Linked DNA regions of Homo sapiens. The protein of the gene in region 2 purifies or fractionates together with the protein of the main gene of each other region. This does not show direct contact. Each region holds a gene or a part of one and is shown on either strand. Other genes may lie near its edges.

Evidence for each region.
Region 1: the proteins of FRMD1 (region 2) and LYZ purify together in Homo sapiens (affinity purification with mass spectrometry; 2 studies listed by BioGRID and IntAct, with this or other methods). This does not show direct contact.
Region 3: the proteins of FRMD1 (region 2) and CRNN purify together in Homo sapiens (affinity purification with mass spectrometry; 2 studies listed by BioGRID and IntAct, with this or other methods). This does not show direct contact.
Region 4: the proteins of FRMD1 (region 2) and AMER1 purify together in Homo sapiens (affinity purification with mass spectrometry; 2 studies listed by BioGRID and IntAct, with this or other methods). This does not show direct contact.
Region 5: the proteins of FRMD1 (region 2) and SKAP2 purify together in Homo sapiens (affinity purification with mass spectrometry; 2 studies listed by BioGRID and IntAct, with this or other methods). This does not show direct contact.
Region 6: the proteins of FRMD1 (region 2) and LTF purify together in Homo sapiens (affinity purification with mass spectrometry; 2 studies listed by BioGRID and IntAct, with this or other methods). This does not show direct contact.
Region 7: the proteins of FRMD1 (region 2) and PASK purify together in Homo sapiens (co-immunoprecipitation; 3 studies listed by BioGRID and IntAct, with this or other methods). This does not show direct contact.

What each region holds. Positions count from the first base shown.
Region 1 is NC_000012.12:69,351,381-69,354,734, forward strand, and holds the end of LYZ (lysozyme C precursor), read left to right. Parts: intron 1-839; coding exon 840-918; intron 919-1,772; coding exon 1,773-1,839; 3' UTR 1,840-2,854; downstream 2,855-3,354. UniProt on the Homo sapiens protein: Lysozymes have primarily a bacteriolytic function; those in tissues and body fluids are associated with the monocyte-macrophage system and enhance the activity of immunoagents.
Region 2 is NC_000006.12:168,055,213-168,058,712, forward strand, and holds part of FRMD1 (FERM domain-containing protein 1), read right to left. Parts: intron 2,512-3,500; exon of another isoform or gene 2,293-2,511; intron 2,128-2,292; coding exon 1,885-2,127; 3' UTR 1-1,884.
Region 3 is NC_000001.11:152,411,464-152,415,410, forward strand, and holds the start of CRNN (cornulin), read right to left. Parts: upstream 2,801-3,947; 5' UTR 2,751-2,800; intron 784-2,750; 5' UTR 771-783; coding exon 633-770; intron 1-632. UniProt on the Homo sapiens protein: Promotes cell proliferation, G1/S cell cycle progression and induces expression of the cell cycle regulator CCND1. Regulates proliferation induced by pro-inflammatory cytokine response via activation of NFKB1 and PI3K/AKT signaling pathways.
Region 4 is NC_000023.11:64,202,909-64,206,845, reverse strand, and holds the start of AMER1 (APC membrane recruitment protein 1), read left to right. Parts: upstream 1-1,137; 5' UTR 1,138-1,276; intron 1,277-3,937. Other genes in the region: uncharacterized protein LOC112268307, read right to left, coding at 762-827. UniProt on the Homo sapiens protein: Regulator of the canonical Wnt signaling pathway.
Region 5 is NC_000007.14:26,725,091-26,728,590, forward strand, and holds part of SKAP2 (src kinase-associated phosphoprotein 2), read right to left. Parts: intron 1,917-3,500; coding exon 1,792-1,916; intron 897-1,791; coding exon 833-896; intron 476-832; coding exon 338-475; intron 1-337. UniProt on the Homo sapiens protein: May be involved in B-cell and macrophage adhesion processes. In B-cells, may act by coupling the B-cell receptor (BCR) to integrin activation. May play a role in src signaling pathway.
Region 6 is NC_000003.12:46,435,145-46,438,025, forward strand, and holds the end of LTF (lactotransferrin isoform 1 preproprotein), read right to left. Parts: coding exon 2,796-2,881; intron 1,086-2,795; coding exon 1,051-1,085; 3' UTR 501-1,050; downstream 1-500. UniProt on the Homo sapiens protein: Transferrins are iron binding transport proteins which can bind two Fe(3+) ions in association with the binding of an anion, usually bicarbonate. Lactoferricin binds to the bacterial surface and is crucial for the bactericidal functions.
Region 7 is NC_000002.12:241,108,536-241,111,472, forward strand, and holds part of PASK (PAS domain-containing serine/threonine-protein kinase), read right to left. Parts: intron 364-2,937; coding exon of another isoform or gene 164-363; exon of another isoform or gene 1-163. UniProt on the Homo sapiens protein: Serine/threonine-protein kinase involved in energy homeostasis and protein translation. Phosphorylates EEF1A1, GYS1, PDX1 and RPS6.

The DNA.
Region 1 (3,354 bases), on a different chromosome or scaffold from region 2:
TTTATATTATATAATAATATTTGGTCATTAAATAAAAATTAGAAAATACAAATAAGAAAAATAACACCCATAATCTTACTACCCAGAGGTTTATAACCATGGGTAAATTCTGGTATATATTCTTCCAGAATGTATATCAATCATGTGTATGAATGTTAAATTATATCATACACATATAAACCCACATACAAACATGTAAATACTGTGTGCTTTTGCAAAAATTAAATTGTATTATACACACGGCTTTACAATTTGCTTCTTATCACACAAAATTATTTGCATGTCAGCAAATACAAATCGGTTTTTAATGATCTTTTGCTCCATTTTCCAGATGAGAAAAAAATACAAATCTGTATCATCATTTTAAAAGAATGACTAGAATTTTAATATATGAATATTCTATAATTTACTGATCCAATTGTTACTATTGAGCACTTAGGTTGTTTCCATTTTTCCCTCATAAATTGCTATGAATAGCTTTTTGTATACATCTTTGGGTGCATTTCTTATTTCTTTTGGATAAATTTTCAATAATAGAACTGCTGAGTAAAATATCACTAGGTGTTTTTTTACAGTGTCTAGTGCAAAGAAGACCTTTAATCATTTTGTTAATACTTCCAGAGCTTCCAATGACTTTGGTAAATGAAGAAAAAAATGCTTCATTTCATGCTGAATGGGAGAGAATGAAGAGAGTTTTCCCCAACAATTACACATATATGGACTCATAGAAAATAATATCTTACCATTCTTTCCACAGCCTAACAGAAAAAAGCTGGCTAAACCTAAATTTAAAATAAAATATCTATTAAAGTTTTTATTCCTTACCACCTGTCTTTCAGCTTTGCTGCAAGATAACATCGCTGATGCTGTAGCTTGTGCAAAGAGGGTTGTCCGTGATCCACAAGGCATTAGAGCATGGTATGTTTTAAGTGTTAAAAGGGAAAACTATCTTACTCTACTGTTGATATATACAATGAGAGCAGACTTTTAAAGACCAAAGTATGCTAATGACACCTCAAAATTGCAGCTTTTGGCTTATGCTAAATGATGTATTACCTACATCCTTGAAGAAACAATCTACTTTAACTGATCCAGAATCTTACTCTTTTACTCCTCAATTTATTTTAGGGGATTTCTAGAGTTTTAAGATGCTTCACACTCTATCAGTTCCTTGTCATATCTTGAAATTCTTTTTAGAATAAGTAAGTGTGGGCCGGGCACAGTGGCTCACGCCTGTAATCCCAGCACTTTGGGAGACCGAGGCAGATGGATCACCTGAGGTCAGGAGTTCGAGACCAGCCTGCCTAACATGGCAAAACCCCATCTCCACTAAAAATACAAAAAATTAGCTGGGTGTGGTGGCAGGTGCCTGTAATCCCAGCCACTCGGGAGGCTGAGGCAGGAGACTTGCTTGAACCCGGGAGGTGGAGGTTGCAGAGGATTGCGCCATTGTACTTCAGCCTGGGCGACAGAGTGAGACTCTGTCTCAAATAAATACATAAAAAATAAATGTGGAATTCACTTTGCAGTTGCTGCTGTACAACGCACATTACTCAATCTTTATGTTCGGCATTCTATGCTCTACTGAGAAATTTGGGTAGGAGTGAAGTATTTTGTATACATATCTTCATTTAATAAATAGCAATAGCTGGGTCTATCTTACTATTTTATCTATTGATAAAATATTTTGTTTCCCCAAGGAGTGCGAAGTATGTATATTACAATGAAGATATGTTTTAACCTTTCACCATTTGCTTCATCTTTTTCTACAGGGTGGCATGGAGAAATCGTTGTCAAAACAGAGATGTCCGTCAGTATGTTCAAGGTTGTGGAGTGTAACTCCAGAATTTTCCTTCTTCAGCTCATTTTGTCTCTCTCACATTAAGGGAGTAGGAATTAAGTGAAAGGTCACACTACCATTATTTCCCCTTCAAACAAATAATATTTTTACAGAAGCAGGAGCAAAATATGGCCTTTCTTCTAAGAGATATAATGTTCACTAATGTGGTTATTTTACATTAAGCCTACAACATTTTTCAGTTTGCAAATAGAACTAATACTGGTGAAAATTTACCTAAAACCTTGGTTATCAAATACATCTCCAGTACATTCCGTTCTTTTTTTTTTTGAGACAGTCTCGCTCTGTCGCCCAGGCTGGAGTGCAGTGGCGCAATCTCGGCTCACTGCAACCTCCACCTCCCGGGTTCACGCCATTCTCCTGCCTCAGCCTCCCGAGTAGCTGGGATTACGGGCGCCCGCCACCACGCCCGGCTAATTTTTTGTATTTTTAGTAGAGACAGGGTTTCACCGTGTTAGCCAGGATGGTCTCGATCTCCTGACCTTGTGATCCACCCACCTCGGCCTCCCAAAGTGCTGGGATTACAGGCGTGAGCCACTGCGCCCGGCCACATTCAGTTCTTATCAAAGAAATAACCCAGACTTAATCTTGAATGATACGATTATGCCCAATATTAAGTAAAAAATATAAGAAAAGGTTATCTTAAATAGATCTTAGGCAAAATACCAGCTGATGAAGGCATCTGATGCCTTCATCTGTTCAGTCATCTCCAAAAACAGTAAAAATAACCACTTTTTGTTGGGCAATATGAAATTTTTAAAGGAGTAGAATACCAAATGATAGAAACAGACTGCCTGAATTGAGAATTTTGATTTCTTAAAGTGTGTTTCTTTCTAAATTGCTGTTCCTTAATTTGATTAATTTAATTCATGTATTATGATTAAATCTGAGGCAGATGAGCTTACAAGTATTGAAATAATTACTAATTAATCACAAATGTGAAGTTATGCATGATGTAAAAAATACAAACATTCTAATTAAAGGCTTTGCAACACATGCCTTGTCTGTTTTTATTTAGACTCCTATAGTGTCTCTGAAGAAAAGAATACAGATATTTGAAAAAATATGATTTGGTGCTCTTAATATCTCTTATATCGTCACTTACCTCACTTAAATAGTCAGATATTGCTGGAGAAAAATTCACAAGCATGCTGACAGGTCTCACTTTAAATTCATAACCATAAATCTCAAATGAGCCCTCAAGTCTGCCTGACCATTTTAGTTACTTCTCTACAATCCTTCCATTTTTATGTCCCTAGTCTCCAAAATGACTGTTACTATTTTACTTTTCCTCTTCTCTCTTCAAAGCCTCAAGACACACATTCAGCCTCCTCCTCTGCCCCCTTATCCTCCACCCTCCTCTGCTCTCAGCAGATAACCTGGCCTCATATTACACTTCTAAAACAAAAGCAACTTCATACCAAGCTTTCCCTTCTACATCCCAAAGCAGCAGTCATACCTTCCCACAGGCCCATCCTTCCTTCCTTCCCTCCTAT
Region 2 (3,500 bases):
AGGGGTGGGCTGGCCCGGCCTTTGCTGCCCCTGGGGTCTATGGCGTGTGGCGAAGGTGACTGGCAGGGGAAGCCTGGACATGGGGAGTGTGCATGTATGGATGTGTGCATGTGTGTGTGTGCATGCGTGTGCATCTGTGTGCAGATGTGTGCGTGTGTGCATGTATGTGTGTGCATGCATGTGGATGTGTGCATGTGTGCATGTAGGTCTTGGCTCAGACCCTGCTTCATGGTGGACACCACCTGCTGTGTCTCCCCAACACTGGTGTGTACCTTCCCTCATGGTCCATGGGACTGGGCTCTTGCTTCCAAGTTTCTTCAAAGGAAGAAGATAGTCATTGCCCCGGAGCGGGGCAAATCAATCATCTTGTACTAATGGGAATGGCTTTGGGAAGTGCCCACATGCTCACATCTGAGCCAGCACTAGGCGCACCTCCCCTGCCGCACAGGAATTGTGGGCAGTCTTGCCCTCGGCAGCACTGGGGCTTGTGGCCATCTACAGAACGCAGCCTTCTGTGGCCGATGCCCCTGAGTGAGTTACAGCCGGCATCTCACCAGCCCCCCAGGCAGGCTGGTCCTGGTTCAAGCAGGAGGCATCTGCTCGGGTTCTTTATTACACGTGCCTGGGGCACACACACGATTCCCTTTCACAGAAAGGAGAGGGTCCCCCTGGATGGACCCGTCAAAGAGGCGGCCTCAATGCACGCAGCCCTGCACCAGGCCATGGGGCTCAAGCTCATGCTTGTCTCCAGTGAGCTGGAGGGTGGTGTGGCGTGGTCTTCACCACACACAGACAGTGAAGGGGGCAGTGGTGTTCAGGGCACAGGGCTGAACGATTGTGGCCTCTCAGTGCTCTGGGATGGGCCTGAGACTAGCAGGGATGCACGGGCCATTCCTCTAAATGCAGAGGACAGCAGGTTTGCACGTGTGCAGGAGTGTTGTGCAGGGGGAGGAGCCCTGGGGAGACCCTACCCTGGTGGCCTTCCAGAGCCCACAGAACCGAGGTCGCACTACCCGTGGAGCCCACCGGATCAGAGCAGGTGCCATGCACAGCTAGTCCCCCACTCTCCGTCTGTCACCAAAGCTTCGCCCCTCCGCCAGCTGGGCTGCACCAGCCCAACCCCAGCCAGGGCAATGGCTTAAGGAAGCCACCTGTGAGCAGAGTGGGTCCTGAGGCCTCATGGCTGAGATGGGAGCAGAGTCGGCTTCAGCTCCGGGGCAGTGGGGTCTTTGGAAGCCCTGGCTTGGAAGGGAAAGCACAGCCATTGACTGTGGATGGTGGAGGAGGGTCTCTGGCTGGATCTCAGGTGACAGAGCTGGGCTTGCACCACAAGAGGGGCCTCTGTCTGGCAGGCCCAGCGCTTGCAAACAGGAGTTGCAGAGAGGGGTTCAGGTCTGGGAGGAACCTGGGTCCTGCACAGTGATGACTGTGAACTCCGGCTTGGGAGCTCTGGCAGCCTGTGCCCATCAGGACTGTCTCTTGGGGAGCTGACAGTGTGGGAAACTGCAGAGCTGTCTCTCCAGGGTCTGGGCCCAGCTGTGTCACCTTCTCTCCCAGATTAGGATGGGTGACAGGCTGCCTCAGGGGCCAACACCATGGCTCTCTGGACACTTGACAGCCAGACCTTGAACTGGCTCCCTGAGACCCTGAGGGAAAGAGCTCCCGGGTGTATGGCAGACAGGCATGAGGTGCGGGACCTGTTTGTTACCTCCCAGGTTGATGTCAGAGCCAGCTCCACACCTCTTACAGGTGAACCTGTGGAGCGTGCTGGCTGCGGAAGTGCAGGCAGCATCTGGCGGGCAGGAAGGGACGAGGGCCATGTGGAAGTGGGGTGGGCAGGGGCTGAGCCTGGCGGTGCGGACGGTACTGCTGGGTGGGTGGTGCCTACACCACAAACTCCTGTGGTGGAGCCTCTCCGAACAGGTCCAGGGCGAGACAGTTGCTGGACCTCTTGCTGGGGAGAGTGGCCCTGGTCTCGCAGGGGCCTGCCAGCCTGCAGTCCAGGGCGCGGTGGAAGGTATGGCTGAGTGAGGTGGGCGCTGGGTGCAGGGCCAGCTGGTGCAGCTGCATGTCGTCCAGGCCATGGCTGTGCTGCTCCTCACTGACCCCGGCTGTCATTTCCTGGATCTGCGGGGAGAGGCCATGGGATGAGGCCTGCTGCCCCCTCTCACTCCCACCACCGCACACGGCAGCCACACTGCTTGTGGCCACAGAGCCACACTCCCTGCCAATGCCCACCCTGCGCCGCAGTGCATGGCCGGCCTGCCCCTGGACGGGTCCCCCAGCACACACCTCTGCGAGAGAGGCTTGGCATCTTCCTTTGATGCATTTCAGGAGGCCCCCACCTTGCCCAGCTTCTTTCCTGGGGCTGCTTTCTGCCTTTTAACTCAGTGGACCTGGACTCTTAGCGTTTGGTGTAATTTAGGATCAGGTCTGAGTGTGGGCCTTGAACACTAGCTCTGGAAGCACCTCAGTGGTCAAGAACGGCCTCCTATTTTATACGGGAGGAAACTGTCTGGGTTCAGAGGTGACTGTCCAAGGTCCCGTCCAGGTGGGCGGCCAGCGGGCAGCGTCATCGCCCTTAAGTGAAGCCTCCAGCCCGAGCTTCTCGGCTGCCGTGGCCCCTCAGATCTGCCTTGGACCACTGTGCTCCCAGGAGGCAGATGAGGCCCCTGGTGGCAGGTGGCAGGGGCAGGGGCAGGCCACGCCGAAGATTGCCCAGCGCCAGGGTCTGACTTGCCCTTCTACGCGTGTTTCCTTGTTTTTAATCAATACGTCTTTCAAGAGTGACAGTCCCTGGCCCAGAGCTCAGGCGGCTTCGGGCAGCCGTCTCCTCCACTGAGTGGGCTGACCTGGGTTTGGGATTGCCCCCACTGGGATGGGCCCGCGCCTGCCAGGACTTGCAGCCTCCCCTCCCTCCTCCCGTGCCCAGCCCTGTTCTCTCTCCATCCAGCCTCCGGTGCCCAGCCCTGTTCTCTCTCCATCCAGCCTCCCGTGCCCAGCCCTGTTCTCTCTCTCCATCCGCCTCCCGTGCCCAGCCCTGTTCTCTCTCCATCCAGCCTCCCGTGCCCAGCCCTGTTCTCTCTCTCCATGCAGCCTCTCGTGCCCAGCCCTGTTCTCTCTCTCCATGCAGCCTCTCGTGCCCAGCCCTGTTCTCTCTCTCCATCTGCCTCCCGTGCCCAGCCCTCTTCTCTCTCCATCCAGCCTCCCGTGCCCAGCCCTCTTCTCTCTCCATCCAGCATCACGATAACTAATCAGCCACAACCGATTTTCTGTGTCTTTCCAGGGGGATTCTGAACAGGGCTGACCAGAGGGGGCCTCACCCTCCTGTGGTGGAGCCGGGGGCGGGGGTTGGGGGGTGGGGAGGGCAACTCGGAGCCTGGCTGGGAACCCTGAGCCCACCTGTTCCCCACCTGGGCATCCAGGAACCACTGGCTCGCTTCTCCTCTAGCTCCTCTGGGGGATCCTAAGGCTCAGTAGCTCTACAGGAAGTGGGGGAA
Region 3 (3,947 bases), on a different chromosome or scaffold from region 2:
CTGTGCCCATATGTCCTTGTCCCTAAGGCCATCATCATCCTGGTTGCTTTAGATGCAAACCAAAGACAGGAAAGTGCATCAAGGCCTTGGTTCTGGTTTGCCAGGTGGGGTGGGGTGAGGCTCCAAAGTCTCCCCCTAGCTATTAACAACCTGCTCTTCAAAATTTCATTTCTGATGTGATCAGTCTGCTAATATTTTTGAGTAACTGCTTCGTGCAAGCCCAGAGCTATGCTTCTAATGAATGTCTATGAATGGATGATTACATTTCAGATAGACGTGGGAAATATTTACTGTATCAAATTTAAGAGGCGGCAGAAAGCAGCAATTATTTTCATTTTGAAATATTCCAAGGCTCTGCTCCTGTCTGAGTTGTCCTTTTAGAGCCCTTTTACCTTGTCTTTAAGTTAGAATTAATTAAAACCAAGGTTTTAATCTAAAGAGCCAGGACTTGCCAACTCCCATGACCATCTCTGGTTCTTTCACCTTTTTTTCTGCCTGCACAGCTGCCATCTGTCCCGGCAGGCCTGGGTTTAGCTGCTGCCTCCTCAAATTCCCCAGGCAAGGCCTCTGCAGGCAAACCAGGTTTCACTCTCCTGCTATGTCCCCTCTCCACCCGGCTCAGCACACCGTACCACAATCACATCGGCAAACTCTTGCTCCAAGAGTCTTTTCAGCTCCCCTCGGGTGAGCGCTGTGCAGTTGCCCTCCGTCCTTGCATAGCGCCTGAAGGCCTCGATGATCCCATTAATGTTTTGCAGTAACTGAGGCATCTTTGAAGTCAACCTGGAAAAGATGAAAAGTTCCCTTGGAGGCTCCATAATCAACCTCAGCTATTTCCTTTATAGCACGTCTGCTGCTAGGTCTTTCCTTGCACGTTCAGCTCTGTTTTTAGTTTTCCTTTGTCCTTTCCTACATAATGCATCTTATGTATGGGAAGGAGGAGCACACAGGATGGAGGCAGGTTCCTGAGTCAGGATTAAATGCTGGCCCCACCACTTAAGTATGGTGTGAGCTGGGACAAGTTGCTTTGCCTCTCCATGCCTCAGTTTACTACTCATTGTAATTGAAGGTGATATTAGTACTCTGTGGGATTATTGTGAAGATTTAAAGACATAATTCATAAAAAGCACTTGGCAGATGCCTGGCTTATATTAAGTGCTCCTTATTAAATATAATTATTATGCTATTATATACATATACACACATATAATTTTTGTACACCTATATAATCACTTTCCTGTACATCATCTCTTCTAATCCTTATTATTTCCACTTTTTTTTATAGGTGAGGAAACAGGCTCAGAGAAGTTAGGCCACACAATTTTTAAGGAGCCAAGAAATCCTAGGATCCATTTTTCCTTAACCCAAATGCAATGGGCTTTCTAGAATGTACCCTGTGGACAGGATTTATTTATTTATCACAAGGGTGTTAGGGTCCCATCGGGAACACCAAAAGGAAGTAAATACATCTGTGAGTCAACCCCTGTCTTGGATGGGAGCCAAGCAGAAATTCCAGGGACACAGCCCTCCCTTCTTGTTTTTTTTGGGAAAGTGGGAAGAAACTGGGCTACCACCTGCTGGGAATGCTCAGGAGGGGGGAACCTTCTTTGGGTGGGAGGCCTTCCAGTTCTGAGGGTCCAAGTTTCTCTGCATGTCGCCTCTGTCCACAGCCCTGAGACTTATCAGAGAAGTCAGCTTGCCCAACAGGCACGTGGCTCCATCAGGCCCAGATTTCTGGTGACCTATGAGTTGGTTCCTAATCAAAGGGAAAGCTTTTCTTTTTCATTAGCCAGAAATCTAGAGGTAGGTTGAGGTGAGGCCTGGGTTTGGTTGCATGAGCAAAAGGAAAAGAGACTTGAAGATTCATTAAGCAGAAGCCTTGGAGAGACCCAAAGGAGGAGATGGTATCAAAGATGACAAGTCTCAAATGCAAGGGGAGATGGAGCCTGTAGCAGCTGGAAAGCCAGAGAGAGGATGGGACGAGGCAGATATAGGTAGGAGAAGAAAGAGAAAAAAGGAAGGAAGGAGACTTGAGTTCTAGAAAAAGCAGATTAGTGTGGCCATGAGGACTCAGTAAGTCATAGCAAAAGGTGGGCTGTTCAGGAGAAACCCTTTCTAGGACCTGGTAACCAACAATTTCAGGCAAACTTTTCATCAAGGTAAAAAACTGGGGATGTTTTCCTCAACATAGATGAAAAATATCTTTCTTTTTTTTTAAAACCATGTAGCAGACTTTAACCACTGACCTTTAGATAATAAAATAATAAGATGACCTTTTAGTTACATTTTAGATTCCTTAGAAAAATCTACACATATTTTGCCTAAATATCACCCTGGTGTAGGAGAGGGGAATCATGTAAACCCCTTCATCCATGACACAGTTTGATCTTATTGTCTAGGTTGGCATAAGTAAACTGATTCTGATCCCATAGACTCTCAGCACTGCAAAGAAGCTTCCAGAGCCTTAGAAAAAAGAAACCTTTGCTGATCCAGGAAGGCACATGGGTGGCCCCATAGCCGCTGCCCACACAGTTTCCCAGTGAGAGGAGCTGCTCCCAGGCCAGCCTCAGGGAGGAGGAGAAAGCCTGATTGCTTCAGGAGAGCATGTTTCCCAACGGTAGCGTTGGTTTGCCCAGTGCTCACAGCTAGCTCTGAAGGATGCATAGTCCATACCTGACTGCCCCAGTTTTATGAGCTCAGATCACCAAGACACTGAGAATGAGAAAGAGGTTTCTTATGAGGGGACTTACCTAATGCCCAGGTGGGATGAAACAAGTGGCTGTTAAGTGGTGTGAGGAGTACCAGGTCAGTGTGATGAGAACCTTTTATAGGGGTTTTAACCAAGGCTCTTGTTTTAGACAGGATATCCTGCCCTATGGGAAGGCTTGATTCATCCAAGATCCAGCCCAGCCCAGCCACACCTCCTCTTGTCTCTGTTTTACCTGCTGATGTGTGACTGCCTTGGTCTAATTAACAGGCCCCTCCTACCACATTTGGTACCTTCTGTAGCTGAGTCCTCTTGACAGGGAAGCTTCTTTCCATTGTGATGGGCTCAGCAGTGCTTGGTACAGGCTGGGGTCCTGGTGAACATTCTTTGTCTCTATGAGCCTACAAAGTTATGGGACTCTTTCCTTTTTTTTTTTTTTTTTTTTTTGAGATGGAGTCCTGCTCTGTCGCCCAGGCTGGAGTGCAGTGGTGCGATCTTGGCTCACTGCAACCTCCGCCTCCTGGGTTCAAGCAATTCCCTGCCTCAGACTCCTGAGTAGCTGGGATTACAGGTGCCTGCCACCATGCCCAGTTAATTTTTGTATTTTTAGTAGAGACAGGGTTTCACCATGTTGAACAGGCTGATCTTGAACTCCTGACCTCATGATTCACCTGCCTCTGCCTCCCAAAGTGCTGGGATTATAGGTGTGAGCCACCGTGCCTGGCCACTGTTTCCTTTTTTAATATAAATGTTCAAGAATATATCTATTGAGGTTAACTTTTACAAAGTAGCCACTCTGAGAGGGCACACATGTTTTTGTGGTGATGTTACTTAGAACTGTTATTACTTAGAACATTTTTTGAATTCTTGTTTTGTAAGTGCCTTTCACACCTAGTGTATGAGACACAAGAAAGCCAGTTTCATCTCTTTAAAGTTGGTCTCATTTTTAATTAAAACAAAAAAAGTTAATACCTTCCCCACCCCATGCTATGGGTAGGTAGCATTTTGTAGCTGATGAGAAAAAAGGCTTACCATGATCATGTGGTAACTCCTCATTGCAAGGACAGGAAACTCAACTGGTGGCTAATCAGCAAATATTTATGGAAAGCTTGCTCCATTTCAGGCAGAGGGCTAAGGCCCTAGGAATACAGTGTTGAATACGATGGCAGCAGTTTCAACTCTCATGAAGTCTATAGCCTGGCCATCCCAGGGGTAAGTCCCCAAGAGGTTAATGATAATG
Region 4 (3,937 bases), on a different chromosome or scaffold from region 2:
CTAGATTCTTTGCTGCCTCAGCTCACCTGGCCCTGGCAGCCACTGATGCCACTTAATGTCCTTAGGCTAGAGACCCAAGTTCGCCGGGCTCCCTGCCACATCCCACACACAGTAGCAGACAAGGCTGGTACAGGCCTCCTCACTTTGTCCTCAGCCTGACCTCCGGTTTGGGCCCAGACAAGATTTTCCTCTCAATATTTAGACTTTTCAAGGAAAAAGGCCTGCCGAAAGCCAGGCTCACAAAGGATGGGGGAAGGGGGACTCTGGAGACCTTGGGGATTCCCTCCACATTCCATAGAAGGTGCGAAATTTGGGTGAGGGTCAAACTATGGAAACAGGTATCATCTCAGAGAAGAAAAGTGAAAGCAATCCTGGAAAGGGAGCCCGGGGCTCTGGATTCCAAATTGGCCCTTGTCGCCGGCAGGCTGGGTAACTGTGGGGAGGGACTTTCCCCACTCTGGGCAGCAGAGGGCCCGTCGGTAACGGGTGGAAGTTGGCCTCTATGGTCTCTAAGGGCACTGGTGTGCCAGAGAGGCGGACGAAGTTAGGGCGCAGGCGCTGCAGCTAGCTTTCCTGGCAGGTGAGTCCCTCCTCTGGGTGGCCTGGCGGCGCGATCCGCAGGGCCTTGTCTCTACGACTAAGGATAGGCCGGCCCTTAGGTTTCTGCAGTCTTCCCAGATTCCTCAACCTCTCTGCCTCGTTACTCCCCGCCGGCCTCTAGCTCAGGAATAAACGTCCTGGTGGCGGCCAGGGCACAGTACCGCGAATGCACAGCGGCCACAGAAATGGGAGTGCGTGAAAACCGAAACCGATCCGGCGAGCCCCATCCGGGCAGGACTGGCTCCTTGAGGCCACGGTGTAGCCACGCCACTACCAGCCCGGCGTGGGGGCGGGAGTGGGGAGCCCCAGCCAGTGGTTCCGCACCCTCTCCGCCCCCTGCCAACACCACGCCTGCACTTATTTGCATTTAAAGAGAAACGCACCAAGGAAAACAGTGGGCGGGCCGGGGCACGCCTTCCCACCATAGCGATTGGGCCATATGCCTGCCAATCAGGACGCAGATGCCCCACCCGGTGGCCTTGGAGTACTGGGGGAGGGGGTATGGGGGAGCTACCCAAAGCCTGGGGAAGGGGAGTCAGTGCTGGAGGTGACTGGAGCCGCGGCGACGGCGGCAGCAGCTGCGGTGGCGGCGCTCTCAGCCGTGGCAGCCGAGGCTGCAGCCCGGCCCAGGGCGGCTCAGCGGACAATAACCGGGCTAGGAACCTGACCGGGCTGGGTAAGCGTTGCGTACAGCCAGGAGCCTCCGCCTGCCCGCGGTCGGGTGCATTCCCGCGTGCTCTGCTCCTACGGACTGGAGGAGGGCACTAAGGACTAGGCGGGTCGGAGTCCCGGTCGCTCGCCCCTCTCCTTTGGAACCCGCTTTGCGGACTGTCGGGTGGAGAGGCAGAGCGGCCTTGAGTCCCCTGGGCACAAGCGACCACGGCTGGGGGGAGGGGGGTTGGGGAGGGCGGGTAGGAAGGCAGGCTAGCCTGGGCCAAGCCTCCCGGCTTTCGGGGGGGCGGGGATGGGCCCGCACGTGCTGCCGCACAGTCCCGGGAAGGGCGCCGCCAGCCAGCACCCCAAGCCATGCATTTGTAGGCCAGGAGCTCTGCAGCTTTGTTGTAGCACATTTGCTGGAACAGCTGTGTAACGCGGGTACCGCTCACCCCTCTCTCCGGCTGCCTGGCTGCCGCCCCTCCCCTCCCCTGTGCATCTCCAGCCTCTCCCTCCTTTCTGCGGACTCAAGCTGGCGTGCTGGCTTGGGCCCGACGGAGACCGGCTTTGGCGTGGATTGGGACATCCACAGACTGCCCCCTCCCCAGAGGAGCTCAGTTGGGCCTGTGGGCTGAGCTCAGTCGCACACTTCCCTTCAGAACCTTGGCCTTGTGGCCCCAACTAGCCGCGCCCCTCCTCCTGGGCCTCCGGGCGCATCTGGCGCCCGCCCCCGCGGTCGGGCAGGCTGGCTGGCAGCCGGGCTCTTGCTGGTCCTTGGGTTAGAGCAGCGGCGCAAGCTAGTCCTTGAGTTAGAGCTGCAAGGCCGCTTTGTCTCCCGCCTCGCCTCGCCTCACCTCCTTTTCCCTTGGAGGATACTGGCCGCGTTTTCCTCTCCAGCCTCCCGTTTAAAAATAGCAATAGGCACGGTGTTTGGGGGGCATTTCCTTGCCAGAGGCCGAAGGAGCCCTCATTGTAGTACGGAACGTATCATACCATCTCTGTGTACAGGAGAGCTAGCGAGGTGGCCAAACCCTCCAACTTCGCAGTTACTTAACATACCCAGCCCGCCAGGCCCCTGTCATTGTCTGCTGGAGACACTTCTGACACTGGTGACCGCCCGAACGCTGGACTTTGCTTGGCTCCCCCGGTGGTGAGGGGCTGTGCCCGCTACATGCGTCACAGCCCAAGCGCCTAGGCGGCAGCTGGACTGGCCCCGCAGAGCTGGTCTCCGTTTGGCCAGGCTGCTTTCGGCAAGGGCCGCGGGGTCAAGGCGAGCCTTGTTCCACACACAAACATCTTCCTCTGCGGCTCTGCCTGCCTGCTGCAGCGGCGTGGGCATGGGCAAGGCAGAGGGCACTGCACTGTTGGACTGCCTGCCCCACCGGGATTCCAGCAGAGCCCCCTCCCCCAGTGTGGCTCCCCTCATTCGGCACCACCCACTGCACAGTCACTGCACCATGGTGCACCTCTGGCAGTGGGCTCTCTAGGCCTTTTTGAGGAATAGGACAGAGGAAGCCACTGGGGGCTTGGTAAGCTCTTGGACCTTTGATTAACCTCTGGTGTGGAGAGCCCTGTGGGCTGCAGGGCCCAGGCAAAGCTTGGGCACTTTGAGGAGGGGCAACGAGACCCAGTAAATTCCTCACTTGGGGGAAGGCTAGCTCTGGACCTTTATGACAGGAGCCAGGACCACAGATATCACACTACAGTCACCTCCTCCCACCTTGATTAGGCCCCAACACAAACCTCTACTTGCAGCTGGGCATCTCTAGCCCAGGGCTGGACCTGCCCTCTGCCTTGTCTCAGGCCAGCAGGCACCTAATGTATCTGCTCTATGTAACTCCCTTCCCCACACCCAAACCCACTCAGCCTACACCTGTCCAAATCTTCTTCCTTCTCAAACCTCAGTTCTGGGCCTTCCTTTTCCTTGGTGCCTTTCTGCCTGGCTCTTGCCCACCCATGGTGACTTCTTTCTTCTCAGAACTCCTCCAGGGCTGCCTACTTCTCCTGGGCATATTCAGGCTTAAATTATAATAGGATGCAGACTATAATTAAGTTGGCCTGCCTCTGTTTTGTCTGATATCATGGATGTCTGGGTTCTCTCAGAACCCTTTGGAGGAGTAAATAAAACCTGGACCTCAGCCACAACCCTCTCAAAGCCAAGCAGTGCAGAGCAGTTAATGATTGTTCCGGAAGGACTTGCTTTCTTTGTAGAGTTTTCCAGAAGACCTTTACCTTTCCAACTTGCGCTTGTCCTGATTCATATGAAAGTGGCTAGAGAAATGATACTCAAGGCTCAGATATGTATTGAGTGTGCCTAATGAGGATGGATTAGAAGGGGGATGATTGCAACTACAAGAAAAAAATCATGATATATCTTCCCCCAACAACAGGCCCAGGATTTGGAATGCTCAGATCCCAGACCATGCATATCTTTGGTTGCTGATTCATGAGCCAAGAGACAAACTACTTGGAGAGAGATGAAAGATCTGTATAAGCAGGGGGATCATCCATGGAAGCTGCCAGAAAGTAGAGGGGTTTAGTAGGCAAAGCATAAGCAGACCCAGGAATGGGAGGGGAGAAAGTGATTGACAGGCAGGGTGAAGGGAGTGAATGAGTCTATTCTGGTTGAGATGGTGTGGCTCAGAGGTAGAGAAGAGATTGAGGCTCAGTGATGGGGTTTCCC
Region 5 (3,500 bases), on a different chromosome or scaffold from region 2:
GTGGAAAAAACTGTAAGGCAAGTCAATTTTTTAATTAAAAAATTATGTAGCATAAACAATGCTAATGAGCCACAAGTCCCAAGAGATTAGTATTGTATCTGCTTCATTTTAATGTTTCATTCACTTTTCGTAAGTTACATCTACTCACTTGAAATATCTCAAGCAGAACCCTTTTTGTAAAATAGAGTTTTGAAGATATTCTTTGTCCTTGTTCTCAATAGGTCACCATTTTCTACTCAAGCTGTCGAGGACAAATCACACACACAAACACACACACACACTCACACACACACACACAGCCCTAAAATCTTTAAATGAATCACCAGAAAGTAAATACCTGGAAGTTCTTCATAAATTTCATCATCTATTGGTTGACTGCTTGTTAGTGGATTGCTTATTGGTAGAGGATGATCAACATCATCATATAATTCTCCTCTCTCATCATAATCCTCAGGAATAATATCAGATTCCATATCTATAAAACACATTTCATGAAGTAAATTTTAAAAGAATGCAGAAGATATTTTTAAAACTATACTTTATAAATAAATGCAGCCCTACAAAGCAACAACAATATTGTTATATGTTATGTCCTTAACTAAAAACATGTTTAAAAATTGTTTTGTAAATATGTGAATTTTAAAGTAAGCCAATTGGTACTTATAGAAAAGATGCTGTTTAAAATCTGAAGTGAGTGGTCTGTATTAATAACAGTCACATTCAAGTTGGTCATTCTCACAGAAGTCAATAAGCTTTTGTATATGAAAACCCAAACTACTCTGTTATTTAGTATTTAAAGACTGTGATAACTTGTTCGATTGATTTATCTTACCTTGCAATACAAATTTCAGCTGCTGTACCCATTCTTCAGCATCTTTGGGAGAAGCTGCTGTAAACTAATATAAAACAAACAGTAAGAACGAAAATCACCATAGTAGGAATGAAAGGTATGTTGTATTCTTACCATTTCTTTAAGACTATTAGTAATTCTTTTCATGTCTAGTGGAACTTTTCTTGCAAGGATGCTTCTTATAATGTACAGTTAATTTTGACAAATTTATGCAATTGAAGCAGAGGATGATGAATTTCAAACGCTGATCAGCAGCTGGCAGCTGTGCAGGAAAAAAAGCTGCTTCTCTTTCATCAATGTCAAAGACAGAACTGATGAACAAAATTTGCCCTTGACAATTAGAAGACACCCATGAATTTCTTTAGACTGCTGCACACAGTTTTCTTAAAAATGTTCTTGTCAGATTCCAACACACTACCTGACAACTTAATTAACTGGCTTTCAACTGCAATCTCAGATATTTAAAACTTATTAAACATACATTCCATATTGATGCCTAGCTGATAGCTATTGAATTGCAGAGCTGATGTGTACTTTTACCTTCATTTTCTCCCACACTCCTAAGCAATACAATATGTATTATCACTCTGATATTTTTGTTTTAATAATTTTACTCTTTCTGCTATGTAATTCTTTTGGAAGATCACCTAGTGCTATGCAACATGTGATCACCTATGTTCTATGCAACATGTGTGCAACATGTGAAGTAATTGATAAATTATATATTCTCTTTATCTTTTTCAAGAAGATAGTGTGTGAATTAATCTGAAATTTTTAAAAATTTCCTCTTATATGAATGTTCAATGCATAATATATTTAAACATCAGTATTTTTATTATTGTTAACATGTCAAGGAAAGTATTAATCAAATGTTAATGTCTCTATAAATGAAATCAAAACATTTTATCAACTTAATTTCAAGGCAACATAAAAACTACAACCTGATATATACGTTTATCAGGAGCAGAGATTTCAAAACAGCAATCTTTCTTTCCATCCTTTCTTAGAGTGTTATTCATTCTGACACTGTAGCCATCTATTGCAAATTCACCTTTCTGTTGTTTGTCTGTTGAAGATAAAACCAGTTAGAATTTCATTTACTAAGTATTAATGCTCAATTATCTTTTATGTAAAATTTCTTCATCAATTCTTGGAAATAACATTTTTTGGTCATATTGCTTTAGTAATATAATGCTTAGGTAATGTTTTTAGAAATCATTTTTAATTCTGAAACATGGAAGTATTAGGGATGATTGGACTTACAAGGAGGTCTGCAGATCATGGTCTTATTTGGAAGGAAGTATGGAAACATGACACTCTAGGGTAGGGAAAATTCAGGAACTAGAACATAGAACTTGCTAGACAAACCCACCACAAACCTTTGGCTCTTTCAGATTTAGTAGGCCAGTGGGAAGATCTGTCCAGCTGAAAACTTGTCGGGCTTTATCTACTGTTATCTCCTTTCACCTATCCCTCCCCAGCACCACCACCAAAAAGAAGCTTCTAAAACAAAAGTTTTCTTTAAAAAAGGTCTCCTAACTTGGTACAAATTTATCTCTAACCTTACAAAGCAAACCAAAACTAAACTAAACTACTCATGACGAAAAAGATGTGAAGGAAAAAAAAACTATGTGGATAAAGAAGAGTGGTAAAGCAAGTACAGAAGCATTAGTTACCAAAAATAGAGGGAAAGTTTCTTATCCAGTCAGTGAACAGTTAAACTAGTAAAGCACATTTGAATCTCACATGATAAAGAGGCAAAAGATGATTACAGCTTTGGTCAGATATTATTTTAAAGACAAGTAAAGTGCGAATATAACAAAGGACTTAATATTCTGAAACTGAAAATAAAATTAGTCAACCTTCCTACTTCACCCAGTTACACCATTTTGATAGAAAAACTATACAGCTATAGGTTTATTTCCTAGATTAACAAACAATATTAAAACCATGAGTAGGGACAAACTCTTTTACTGAGCTCGGGGCAAATACAGAAATGCTTTCGTGTTGTGGGGTGTGCTTTCTCAGTTCAGTGTACCAATAAAAGATACATCTCCTTTTCTTAAATACACAAGTTAAATGCCTAAAGTAACTAACATATGTTAGGTCATAGAGATTATATCTTGTTCAAAATATCAAATGAGAAAAAAAATCTCAGTTCCTGGGAAACTCTAATCACATTTAGTCATAATTTACATCTCTCTGAATGTCTAAAGAAACAATCAAAGTTTATTTCATGAAAAAATTCTACAATAAACTCTATGTTTTTCACAAAAACGATACAGTACTTTAAAGATTAGAGAAGCATTTCCCAAAGATATTAATAGGTTTCTGTGATCAAATCAATTTGGGAAACGTTTTGCCGAATTAAACAAGAGTTAAGCAGTTTTGTTAGTTCAGGCCTTCTTGGAGCCCTTAGTACATTTACATAGTAATTAAACTTCTATAAGAAAAATTTAGTATGCAGCATTTCCAAAAATTATTTGTCCGCGGAATCATTTTTCACAGAATATTTTATGGTACTCCCAGGATATATTTCGTAAGACACCTAACTAGGAAACTATTGGGAAAAAAGTATTAAAATGATAAATGGTTAAGCATGGTTGGTTCTTGTAAATTCTCAAAAAAAGACTAAATCATTCACTCACTC
Region 6 (2,881 bases), on a different chromosome or scaffold from region 2:
TTTCTCTCTTCATTATTTAAAATTATTCTGTCTTCACTTCTCTCTCCTTTTCTCTGCTTCCTACTTAGCTCTTTAGAAATGCAATTATAATCTTTTATCTCCCCTTCACCAGACACTCCCAACAGGGCAAGTTCATCTAACTATGTGCTCTTAGTTAGACGCTACAGAGCAGAACTCTCTCCCACCAAGAGACTACCTTGAGACATAACAGTCAATTCACAAGCCAAAATATGCCCGCTATGAAACTCTCCCATCTGGAAATTTTTTGGCTGCTTTTACAACCTAGTTTTGCCCACAAAGGCACCAGCAGTAACCAACTCAACTGCCTGGTAGACAAGGCACCAAAGCCAGTACCCAGACCCTCTACCTGCTCACTTCCTGCCTTGCATGCCACGCCCCCCATTTAAAAGCCTCTGCTTTCTGCTCCAAAGGTGAAGCAGTTACCCTTAAGGAAAGAAGCCTGTACTTCTTCCCCTAAGGTAGCTTTGGAATAAAAGTCACTTTATACCAAACCTAGCTCTTGTTAATTAGACTCTGCAAGTGATGAGCAACTGAACCTACATTTCAGTTATAATTCCTATGCTTGCTCTTCCTGCCCTGCCTTGGGGACACGCACACACTCCCAGGCACATACATGCACGTGCACTGAGACAGCTATGTGAATAACCAACAAGATCCCCTTAGGAAAACCGGTGCTTGGCCTGGCCTTAAATTCCAGACCCTTGGGCATCATACCCAAGACTGCAAGAAAGAGGAGGGGCTGGACCTGAAAAACTTGGAAGGGAAGGTCCAACTGTACAGGTATTTTGTCAGGCATGTGATTTCAGTATAAAATTCTAGAAAAGATGAGTGACACTTTATAAGGAGAGAATATCAACAAAATTTCTCATTTTACTTCTTGCTAAGACGACAGCAGGGAATTGTAAGCAGATGGATGGGCAATCCCCACCTTCAGCAGGGGAGGCCAAGGCCCCAACACACCTGGGGAGAAGAGCTGGGGGCAGTGAATGGCTGAGGCTTTCTTGGGGAGCTGGGCCATCTTCTTCGGTTTTACTTCCTGAGGAATTCACAGGCTTCCAGGAGGGCTGTGGGACACAACAGAGCAAGAGATTCAGAAACTGATTTCTTCCATTAAACCAGTTATTTAATCCAATAAATCAAAGAGAATACTAAGAGTTTTCTCTGCCCTTCTCCCATCACTGAGTCAGTGCTTGCCACACTCATATTCCCACTCCCCTACTCCTAGCGACTACGGTGTTCAAGGGAGCCAGAGTCTAGCCCTCACCAGCCAGGGTGTTTCCCTGCTCTGGCCTGAGAGACACAACCACCCTGCACTTGTCTCTGATTGAATCGACTGTCACATTCTCAAGTTCACAAGACATTGGTGGTCCTCTAGCTTCTCCCGGAATGTGAACCTGTTTGCAATCATGTTCACCTGCAGATTCACTCATTCATTCACAGATCCTTACTGAGCACCTGCTTTGTGTGAGTTGCTGTGCTAAGTGCTGGGGACACAGCATGGATAGACTGGCCTGCCCTCAAGAAGCATGTGGTCTATGCAGTCCTGAGCTGGCTGCTCACAAGAAGAGCCCTGTAGCCATATTTCTCAGAGGGTGGTCCTGACCTGCATCACAGTGACCTGAGTTGTTTGTCAATACAGAAAAGGGTTTCTCAACCTTGGCACTATTGACATTTGGGGCCTGATAATAACCCTTTATTGCAGGGGGCTGGCTGTGCTTTGTTTAGTAGCATCCCTGGCCTCTACCTATTTGTTACCAGCAGCACCCTCTATGTTGTAAGAATCAAAAAAATGCTTCTCACATTGTCAAATATCCCCTCAGGGGAAAAATTGTCTCTCATTGAAAACTACCGATAAAGACATTTCTGGCCCTGCCCCCATCCTTGGACCAACAGCATCCCTAATGCCCCCAACTCTGGGTGAGGGACCAGGAATAGGAATCTGAATGATTGCAGTGCACAGGGAGCTGTGCACACTGAAATCCCACAGTTATCACCGGGAGCCTTACAATACTCTGTGATGTCTTCTAAATATTTTTAAGGGATTAAATTAATATCAACATATTTCCCTGGTTAAGATGTGTTTTCCTACACTTGAATTTTTTTGAGATTTTGTTTTCTCTATAGTTGGCATCTATGGTAACTGTCTAGAATCAGATTTTTTTTTTTTTTTTTTGAGGAAGGGTCTTTCGGTGTCACCTAGGCTGTAGTGCAGTGGTACAATCATAGCTCACTGCAGCTTCAACCTTCTGGGATCAAGCAATCCTCCTATTTCAGCCTCTCAAGTAGCTGGGACTAGAGGTGCTTGACACCACACCAGGCTAATTTTTAAAATTATTTTTGTAGAACAAGGTCTCTCTGTGTTGGCCACATTGGTCTCAAACTCCCGGGCTCAAGCCATCCTCCCACCTCTGCTTCCCAAGGTGGTGGGATGACAGGTGTGAGCCATCACACGTGGCTGGTTTTGTCATTTCTCAATGCATATGTATATATGCACCTTTCATTTTACTGAATAAAATGGATTATCAGTTTCCAAAGATTTCATGACAGTGCCATCACTATCCGTACTATAAAATTTATAAAAATTTATTACATACTGCTCTATTTTATTCTCTAATTATTTTATCAATGAGATTATAATTTCCTGAACTGTAAAGAGATATTATCTTTCCTTAACATTTTTACACCTGTGTTCGTTCCTAGAATGCTGTTTGGCCCTCAAACCTTGACCTTCACCCATGGTGGTTTCTCGGGGATGCTAGCTAGGGTCTACTTACGGGAGGTTGAGCACTTTTTCAGATTAGTAATGCCTGCGACATACTGTGGTCCCAAATATTTTTCATATGTTGTTTTGCCATGGAGT
Region 7 (2,937 bases), on a different chromosome or scaffold from region 2:
TCAGGAACTTCCTTGTGGACACCAACCACAAGACGTGTCTACCAGAGGGGGGAGCGGGGGGAGGGCTTCCTGGAGGAAGCAGAGTACACGTCCATTGGCTTTGCTGAGGGCCACGGGAGCTGCAGGCCACTTCAGAACAGGGTCACGTGCCCTTCAGACGTGATCAGGCATGTTCACGATCTTGGTGTGAACGGGCTTGGTGTGACCATGGACACACATGCCCTTTAGGAAGATGGCTGTGGCGACGATGTGAAGGGTGCTGCAGGACGAGACTGAACAGGGAAAAACACCGAAGGATGAAAGCAAACAAGAAGGACGTGGTGAAGGTGGGTGTTCACACAGTGGGCCAAATGGAGGAGCAAGCTTCAGGGAGAAGACACCCAAAGGACTATTGTTACTTCCTGTCGCCGTAAACATCCTCATCCACGCTACCATTTATTTCCTGTCACCGTAAACATCCTCATCCACGCTACCATTTATTTCCTGTCACCGTAAACATCCTCATCCACGCTACCATTTATTTCCTGTCGCCGTAAACATCCTCATCCACGCTACCATTTATTTCCTGTCACCGTAAACATCCTCATCCATGCTACCATTTATTTCCTGTCACCGTAAACATCCTCATCCATGCTACCATCTATTGGGTACCTAGAGATGCCAATGCTGTACCAGCATTTTACATGGCTTAACCCAAATCCTCACAACAACCTAGCAAGATAAATATGACTTTCATTTTGCACAGAAGAGCAAGGCTTGGTGAGGTGAAGTTGCTGCCAAGCACGCACCAGAGCCAGGTCACCAGCACCCACAGCCCTGCCCCTGCACTGGCCAAGGCCATGCGTCTCCAGGTCCGCAGCTGGGGGTCTGTCCCCAGAAGAGGTCTGGGAAGCAGCAGCCTGTTCTCAGAACCAGAATTAGACAAGGGAGCCAAGAGAAACCACAGCAGTGAGAAGAGTGGCACGGACAGAGCCCCGGGCTGGACTCGGAGAAGAGGGGCTGGGAGGGAGGGGAGGGGAGGGGAGGGGAGGGCTCAAGAGGGCAGATCACAGAGGCCAGAGCAGCAGCGTGGGTGAAAGTCGGGCCCCCAGGCTGAGTCAGCAGGGTGGTGGGGTGGCTAGCACAGACCGCAGGGAAGCTGAGCGGACGGATGAGAGCTGTAGGGGCTAGAGCAAGAAAATCAGTTTCAGCAGTTTTTGTTTTTGTGTTGTTTCTGTTTTTTAGAGAGATTTCAAGATGTTTAGAAGCTGAAGAGAAATATCCAATAGAACAGAACAGAGGTTGGCAAACTTTTCCTGTGAAGGGTCAAATAGTAAATATTTCAGGTTTTGGGCCACATGGTCCCCACTGCAACTCAACTCTGTCATGTAGGACAAAGGCAGCTACAGACGACACATAAGCAAATGAGCACAGCTCCATTCCAATAAAACTTTATTTATAGAAACAAGAGGCAGGGGATGTTTGCACACACGTTTGTAGCAGCATCACGAACAACATAAAGATGGAAGCAAAAGGTAGAAGCAACACAAATGTCCACTGACAGATGAATAAGTACAGCATATCCAGAAAACGCAATCAAATTCAGCCTTGAAAAGGAAGATGCTGGCACAGGCCACAACATGGATGGACCTTGAGGACTTTATGCAAAGTGAAATAAGCCAGTCACCAAAAGGCAAATGCTGTACGATTCCACGTATAGGAGGTCCCTAGAGTAGTCAGATTCATAGAGAAAATAGCAGAATGGCAGCTGCCAGGGCCTGAGGAAGGGGAAGAGGGACCTAAGGCCACAGTCTGCCGACCCTGGAGTAGACGGAGATGAAGATGACAAGACAGAAGCCAGGGCCCTGAGGATGGGATTGAGAATAAGAACTCAGAAACCCTTTCATCCAGGGAGATGGGGAGAGGACGCAGGAGGGAGGAAGGAGCTCCTGAGAGGAGGCCTGCAGCCCCGCAGGCCCAGGAGCAGTACACCGCTCACAGCCAGAAAGGAGAGGCCAGGAGGCAGGGCAGAGCCCTGGCAGGGCAGGCGCTCAGGGAGAGGGTGGGAGCCACAGCTCTGGGAGGCAGGGCCAAGGTGGCCAAGCAGCACTGAGCTCTCGCCCAGGTTGGATCCCCCCTGCACCCTCCCCAAGCTTCACGGCCTGGGTACAGGAAGGGGTGACAAGCCATGCAGCAGGCATCATGGGTCAGTGGACAGGGGACAGGCAGTTCCCTCCAGCACGGAGGGCACGACAACCACTGCAGGGCAGGCAGAGCCCACCAGCGCCCACCAGGCTCTAGGGCAACCAAACTAGATCTGAAGGGAAACTCCACGGCCCTTCTTAGACCAACCCCCTTCGATATTTCACGCTGTTTGGTGGCTCTGAAGATGCATGGAGGTTCTAGCGGGGAAGAGCCCATTTTCACTTCCTCCATACTCTGCACACAGGGCATCCAGGCCCAGAAGAGCTCAACGCTGCCTGGCATGGAGAGGTTGGCGCAGGCTGAGGCTGCTGGGCTCTGAGGACTCAGGGTGTGCAGCCTGGAACCTGCACCTCCTAATGAAATATGGCCTAAGCAGACACCAGGATCCAGAGCCCAGCCACTCCTCTCCCCAATGCTGAGGCCCTCCCGAGAGCCCAAGGCACGGCATGGAGCTCGTGCGTGACTGCGAGCAAATGCCCTGGCCTCAGGCCACCAGGTCAGGTGCAGCAGGTCTGTGAGGGACCCCGTGTGCCTCTCCTGTGGGGGCAGCATCAGCTTCCCTCCTAGAGAACCACATGGAGCAGATATGGGCGGTGCAGCAGAGCACTGCAGCAGAGGGCCAGGAGGGTCCAAGCAGTGCTGTGATCATCCGACTCTCTAACCATGAACTCACCTAGAGATGCATTCCAACCACACCTCTCTAAAATACATGTAGGTGTTAGTGGAAAACACCTGCTATCTATTTCTGACTTA